2 linked regions of the Homo sapiens genome follow. The protein of the gene in region 1 interacts with the protein of each later gene in a pairwise test. Each region holds a gene or a part of one and is shown on either strand. Other genes may lie near its edges.

Evidence for each region.
Region 2: the proteins of ATL2 (region 1) and ARL6 interact in a two-hybrid assay, tested with the Homo sapiens proteins (one study listed by BioGRID).

The regions. Positions count from the first base shown.
Region 1 is NC_000002.12:38,370,664-38,374,586, forward strand, and holds part of ATL2 (atlastin-2), read right to left. Parts: intron 1-3,923. UniProt on the Homo sapiens protein: Atlastin-2 (ATL2) is a membrane-anchored GTPase that mediates the GTP-dependent fusion of endoplasmic reticulum (ER) membranes, maintaining the continuous ER network. It facilitates the formation of three-way junctions where ER tubules intersect.
Region 2 is NC_000003.12:97,762,487-97,766,409, reverse strand, and holds the start of ARL6 (ADP-ribosylation factor-like protein 6), read right to left. Parts: upstream 1,653-3,923; 5' UTR 1,433-1,652; intron 420-1,432; exon of another isoform or gene 321-419; intron 1-320. UniProt on the Homo sapiens protein: Involved in membrane protein trafficking at the base of the ciliary organelle. Mediates recruitment onto plasma membrane of the BBSome complex which would constitute a coat complex required for sorting of specific membrane proteins to the primary cilia.

The sequences.
Region 1 (3,923 bases):
GGCTGGGGCAGAAGAATCTCTTGAACCCAGAGGTGGAGGTTGCAGTGAGCCAAGACTGTGCCACTGCACTCCAGCCTGAGTGACAGAGCAAGACTCGATCTCAAAACGAAACAAAACAAAACAAAACAAAAAAATCAACCCCTGGCCCAGCAGGGTAGTGCAAGCCTGTAGACCTAGCTACATAGTAAGCTGAAATGGCGGGGGTGGGGGGTGCACCCCAGAAGTTCAAGGTTGCAGCGAGCTATGATTGAGCCACTGCACTCCAGCCTGTGCAACAAGGCTAGCCCCTATCTCGGGGGGGAAAAAAATAAGGAAAAAAATACAAAAAGATAAAAAAGATTAGGAAATGGCAAAAATCAACTCCCCCATTCTGATAAAGGTGAAATTAAACCAACTTTTGGCATCCCACAAATTCATTCACTGAAATTTTTAAAAAGCTCTCCATTTACCATGCCAACTTTCCTCCTTTGAGGAGTTTCTTTATAGAAGGCTTTCAAATTTCTAAATGGCATTTATAGGGTTTATCTCTTTAATTAAAAAAAAAAAAAAGAAAGAAAGAAATGGCTGGGTGTGGTGGCTGATGCCTGTAATCCCAACACTTGGGAGGCAGAGATGGAAGGATCACTTGAGTCCAGAAGTTTGAGACTAACCTGGACAACACAGGGAGACCACATCTCCACAAAAAATTTTAAAAACTAGCCAGGTGTGGTAGCACACTCCTGTAGTCTTAGTTACTGAAGAGGCTGATTCAGGAAGATTACTTGAGCCAGGGAGGTCAAAACCGCGGTGATCACGCCACTGCACTCCAGCCTTGGCAACAGGGCAAGACCTCGTTTCAAAAAACATAGAAACAAAACAAAATTTTTAAAAAAATTACTGTAAGTTTGCTAGGGTAGATATTAACCACTGGGAAGGAAAAAAAAAAATGTTACAGAAAAACATTACAGACCCAGGCAGGGTGCGGTGGCTCATGTCTGTAATCTCAGCACTTTGGGAGGCCAAGGTGGGTGGATCACCTGAGGTCAGGAGTTCGAGACCAGCCTGGCCAACATGGTGAAACCCTGTCTCTATTAAAAATACAAAAATTAGCTGGACGTGGTGGCACGCGTCTGTAGTCCCAGATACTCAGGGGCTGAGGCACAAGAATCGCTTGAACCCACGAGGTGGAGATTGCAGTGAGCCAAGATCACGCCACTGTACTCCAGCCTGGGTGACAGAGGGAGGCTCTGTCTCAAAATAAATAAATACATAAAAATAAAACATCATAGACCTAGTATTAAAATCCAAGCCTCCATTCTAAATCCATTTCAAAAATCATAGGAAGTTTGCAGAACTCAAGTTAAAATGTTAAAGATGGATGTAGTTCTAATCACTGTCCATGACTCTATTCTAAAGGATTAAATGAAGGGAAAAATAAGGTTTTTATGAGATTCACTGTTAGTATGGTTTCATGTTAATTGTTTTTTTTTTTTTTTTTGGCAATCCTGTGCATAACAGACCCAAGTTAGATTTTGCAGATTTACTGTTTGAAAAGCCAATGCACTATACAGTCAAGTCAGCCCTCCATATCTATGGGTTCTACATCCATGAATTCAACCAACCAGGAATAGAAAAATTATTTAACTGCATCTGTACTGAACATGTACAATTTTTTCTTGTCATTATTCCCCAAGCATACAGTATAACAATGATTTACATTGTATTAGGTATTATAGTGTAGAGATTCAAGTGTACGGGAGGATGCACATAGGTTATATGCAAATACTATACCATGTTCCAGGGACTGGAACATCCTTGAATTCTGTCATCAGAGGGAGGTTCTGGAACTAATTTCCCATGGATACCAAGGGACAACTGTACTTGGAAACTGCCATAACCTTAAACTATGAAATTAACTCATATGAAATCCTGCAATTGAAATAAACAATTCCAGAAGAACTACTTTGCCACAGGATTGTCTAAAATGCACATTTATTAAAATGAAGATAGCTAAGAAGCATGAATGATCACATCTTATGTTAATAACTGAACAAACACCTTCCAAGTTGCCTATTTTGAAAATTACTTTTTAGTTCAAAGTCTCATCTTAAATAACCACCCATTATGGTAATAACCACCTCCGACAGAATATTTGGCAGTGGGTTAAGCACTTTTAACACATTTGATACTTACAATAACCCTATCATGAACATATTATCAGCATTTTACAGCTAAAATTTAAAACTTGCCTACCACCCTTGCCCAAACTAAATCTCTGTCCACAGGAAAAAATTATAACTTTTTATTGCAAATATACACATTATATATAATAGCATAATAACACAAGTAGTCACACTGGTACATTCTTACATATATGTTACTGTGCCTTAAGACAGTTTTACAAACTTTAAAGTACTACAAAACACTTGCACCCTATCATCTGTTTCCCACGACAGCCTTGTTACGGATTATCACTACCTTATATGAGGGCTCCAGGCTCTGAGAGCTTAAGTGAAATCACTCATTTGATTCCTCATTCTTTTCCCACTACATTATCCTCCCTATGATTAAAGAAGCATTGCCGCCACAATCAGAGCATCTTTGCAATAAAAGATAAAATGTTACTAGAGAACCTAGATAAGTATTCTTCACCAGTTACATACTTCTCCAACAAGTTATTAGAGTTACTGGCCAGCAGGATATCCAGCTAGCCTCTAAGTGGTTGTTTGGGGACCAATCATAAAGTTGTATGAACAGGAGTTGTATGAATACTTTTTATTAAGCTAGTAGCTTAGCAAGGGAATCCCCTACATTCTACTTGTACTGGTCCGAAGACCAAATCCAAGGTCAATCAAAAGTACATATTATCTCCTTGGGAAAACAGAGGATGTTAGTCTTTTATGACTTAAAAGTTGTTTCTAGTAACTATCATCCGACCATACACCACACAGCCATTTGTCTCAGAGTAGGTAGTGAAGGTGGCTACTTAAATACACACATTTTTAAAAAACTGTATCCAAGTTTAGCAATATGTGTATATACCCAAGCACACAGAGACACGTTCCATAACTTGGAAAATCATCTGTAAAAGTTATTTTGGCTTTGCACTTCTGAATACTTCATGCTTCTCCATGACCATAACAAACAGAATTGTTCTACTTCCTTTACTAATTGTTCTACTTCTTTCTATAATATCTACCAAGTATTATCCTATTGCCATCATATTTTCAGGTTGGTACTTTCTTCCTGCTATCCTTTTTATGGGGGAGACAGAGTTTCGCTCTTGTTGCCCAGGCTGGAGTGCAATGGCATGATCTCGGCTCACGGCAACCTCCACCTCCCAGGTTCAAGCGATTCTCCTGCCTCAGCCTCCTAAATAGCTGGGATTACAGCCATGCGCCACCACACCCAGCTAATTTTGCATTTTTAGTAGAGAGGGGGTTTCTCCATGTTGGTCAGGCTGGTCTCGAACTCCTGACCTCAGGTGATCCACCTGCCTCGGCCTCCGAAAAGTGCTGGGATTACAGGCGTGAGCCACCGCACTCAGCCTGCTATCCATTTTTAAAGCCATAGAGAAAGCCCTCGAGTGTTGTGTATCATGTGCTGTGTGGAGGACTAACGGATAGGAAGAAAACTACTAAAGTAATGAATTCACTGTGGAATCAAGTTCAGTTATTCTATGTTCACATCTACATTCCTTAAAGTAAATAACTCTCAAATTTTCTAGAAAGTAAATAATACACCTGGACTTTGAAAACCCAAAATGTCTACAAAATCAGAATACCATTACACGTTAAAAACAAGAAAGAAAAGAAGAAAGCTGCTTCCCTGCACCTATCTGGAGAAAATCTTTGCGCTGTAAAGCTCTAAACCACCATTACCAAAAAGTTTAACTTCTACTCCTATGCCTTACATTTCTGGCTCTTAACTTTTTAAGGGCCTGA
Region 2 (3,923 bases), on another chromosome or scaffold:
CAGAGATTCAAATCTTATTCAGTCCATTTCTTTAAATTACAGCTTAAGGACCAGCATTTGTAAAATCTATTTTAAATTAACCTTCTGATGTCATGAAGCAATTCACACATACCATTTGATTTCAAAGTAAATTTGCTATTACTCACTTTATTTACTGCATAAACATATTGATATAAATGCTTATATCTTGTTCTCCATTTCATAATTTAGAACTTATGTTTTAAAAACGACAACTTCTCACATTTTCCCCCCTTTAAGCATCTACTATAAAGCACTGAGTGTTTAAAGCCTGATGCTTGAATATTCGTTTTTCACAGTACCTTGTATTGTGACTTTCCATCACTTTTCCATGGATTATCACTTGATACTTGTTAATGAAATATTTTGGGACACACAATTTAGAAGAGCAGGCAGTTTTTCTAAAAGAGGTAATCACATTTATTGAAATTGCTTTATAAACAACTATCATAGAGCCTTTAAACTTCTACGTTTCAAGTAGTTATAATTTTCCTTCCATAAGTTGACTTTCTGCATGCATAAATAAAAGATAATTGAAGCCAGTCAATATTTGTTAATCGTGTCTTAAGTGTGCAGCGAGAGACACAACTGTTTTCTGCAGCTTCCTACTCTGATAGCCATGATTCTCAACCCTGGCTGCACTCTGAAATCAATTGCTGAATCCGAATTTTTGAAAATAAGATCAGGGCATCTGTAGTTTTAAAAGCTACCCAGTGTTTCTGATGTGAAGTTACTATTGAGAACTACTGGCTTTCAGAATAAAGCCAGTAGTTTCAAACTTCCAAGCACAGCTTTTAAGGTTGTCCACAATCTGGCTCCAATCTTCCTTTCTTGTTTCTTATCTTACTGTAACCCTCTCTTTGCACACCAGCCAAATTCTCTTGGTTATTGTCTGACAGACTGTTTCCTAAAGGATTACATATTGCCAGAGAAGTCCAGAAGAATTAGGATGTTATCCACAGTTAACAGCTTAGAGGGTAAGCTGCAGAGACAGAGTGGTAGCCCAGAGAAAACACCACGAATGATACTTAGTAAACTCTGTAAAGTGTTTGTTGATTGAAATGTTGCCTACTTTTATTACCCCAAATAAACATTCTTATTCGGCTTTCAGTTTTTTATGATATAATTTAAATTACACTTACACACACACACACACACACACACACACACACACACACACCCCCAATACACGGGTCTAAGTTGAGCATTGTTAAAACCCATCAACCAAACATACGTCCAAACCAGTTTAGTAAGTTTTCTAGGGCCTCTATAACTCACCTTCTTTTCTACTTCTCATACATTAGCAACAACTACACGCGTGGAGTGAAAAACATGGGAAAGACCAAAGAGGAATTCTAAAACTGACGGGGACAGAGGGTGGCGCTGGCTTTAAAAACCGGCGTTGAGGAGATACCTGGTTTTTGAGGTTAGTCCGGAGGGCGCAGGAGCTGGCAACAGGAATGGACGCACTCGTATCGGTCTCCGGGATGGAAATCTGGTGCGAGGGTCCCTCAGCCTTCTTCTCGATGCCTACATGGGAAGGATGCCTGGTAATGAGCAAAGCCGTCTCTAGAAGTTGGGAAAACCGGCAGCCTCTGCAGCAGTCTGTGCATCAGTCGCTGAGCAGGCGCCTTGGCAGGCACCGTTCCCTTGGCAACAGGAGCTTCTTCCGGTCCTGAAGCCACGCCTCCCCGGGGGTCCTGGCGATTCAGCCGTTGTGCTATAGCTTCTGGGATTGAAGAGCTCCGGGAAAAGGTCAGAGGCGCGCCGAGGAACTATACATTGAAGAAAAATGTGTGCACAGGTGGCAGGGTGAGCTGCCTATTTCCTGCGAGGAGCCGGGCAGTTCCCGGCGTAGCATCATGGGAGTTGTAGGCTCGCGCACAGCTTTCTGGGAAGCGTTTGGCGTTCGCGTGTGCTGCGTGTTTGTCGCTCGGCCCTGGTCTTCCTGGGGATCCAAGAGGCTGGCGCTGGGTGTGGCGCGGAGAGTGTCGTTACCGGGCACCAGCGTAGCGTTGTGGCAACGACTGCAAGACGATACTGTCCCCCCTGGGGCAAGATGTGCGCCGGAGTTCCCCAGTTGCCCATCGCACCGACTCTTCTCTGGGTTCTGATAGGCCTCCCACCCTGAGTCCCTGTAGAGGTAAAACTGTTAATACAGGAAGGTAGAGGGGAGAACTGGTGTAAAAAGTCAAAAGGTGTTATTCGGCTAATAAAGTATGCCTGTACCCCTGCTTCTTAGTTGTGTGGTCTCCCGAAGAGATTTCTACCAGGCATAATCTCCTGTGAGTAGATTACAGTCTCCAGAATCAAATCGGCAGGTGGTCAGGAAAGGTATTAATAGTCAATACTTAAAGTTGACCACCTTCTTAAATTGCACTTGGATTTTATAGTCATAGTCACAAATGGTCTTCAAATAGAAAATATTTAGGCATACCCTTCCCCACATCTTTTATTACTGCGTTTTCCAACGGACACATTACAGATGCAGTCATTTTAAAGATCTAGCCTTTCAATCTGCCCAACTCCACTAACCTCACCCCCAGCGAATGGCCTCATTCTTCAAATAGGGGTTTGTATCTCTTCATTTTTTTTGTTTGCATGGGTGTAGGATTTCCGACCCCCTGCCCCCCACCGCGCGACCCTTTTCAACTAGCTAGTGTATGTTTACTGCACTGCCTGTTCTTTGGCCTGTCAATTCATTTGGCCTATTAAATGGACTAGGAGGGTGCAAAAAGAGACTAGAAGGAATTATTTCAAAGTAATATGGTAGGGGGGACGGTTGTAAGCGTGTGATTATGGGGTGATTTATCTTTTGTCACTTCTCCAAATTTCCAAATGTAATTGTCATTTTTACAGCGAAAAAACAAAAGCGGCTCTGGATTAGTGATTCTTGTTGAAAGACAAAAACAAAACAAAGACCCTATGGATGCATATCAACATATAAATGTCCTTGTAAAAATGGAGTATGGAAATACATTCTTTCTTACTGTGTGGTCTTAGCCCAATTTACCCTTCTCCGTGCTTCTATCCTCACCTTCAAAAATATAGTATTTATCTTATCTGGTAGTTCTGAGTATTAAAGATAACAGAAATACAGATGTTTGGCACATATTTATTGTTCAATAAATAATGTCCTGTCTTCTTTTGTCTTGAGCTTTTTATTGTGTAAACAAAATTGACCCAAACCGTAACTATGGTGGTTCTTTAACTTCTGAACTTCTAATCGTGAATGCATTGACAGGGAGGTGTTGAACACTTTTCTGTGTGCCTGGGTGTTGTGACTTACTTGTAAGAGATGGAAGCTAATGTGCTTGCGGCCAAAATATAACATTTTTTTTTCTTAGCGATCGGCAGAAATGTTATATTTCAGAAAACTTTCATGGACAGACTCAATTTTTCCTGCTAAAAGTTGATATTTTCTGCCTCTAGGTTGAGTTCATCTCTTTTGGCTTAATATAAAACATTTGGTGAAAACTGGAAATAAAATGGACATATTGAGCATCCAACTTTTCAGGAAAACAAGGCAGATAGATAATTCTTCTACAAAAATGTAGCTAGTCAAATCGTTATCTTAGATAAGTATAGTTGATAGATGGCTTATTACTAGAGATAAATGTTATGAAATAAAGCAGTAAAATAATCTAGAAAAAAATGTTAGCCTTGAAAATATTAAACTTAAAAAAACATAAAGGCTGCCAGGCCCGGTGTCTCACGCCTGTAATCCCAGCACTTTGGGAGGCTGAAGCAGGTGGATCACCAGGTCAGGAATTCAAGACCAGCCTGGCCAACATGGTGAAACCCCATCTCCACTAAAGATACAAAAATTAGCCGGGTGTGGTGGCACGTTCCTGGAATCCCAGCTACTCAAGCGGCTGAGGCAGGAGAATCGCTTGAACCGGGGA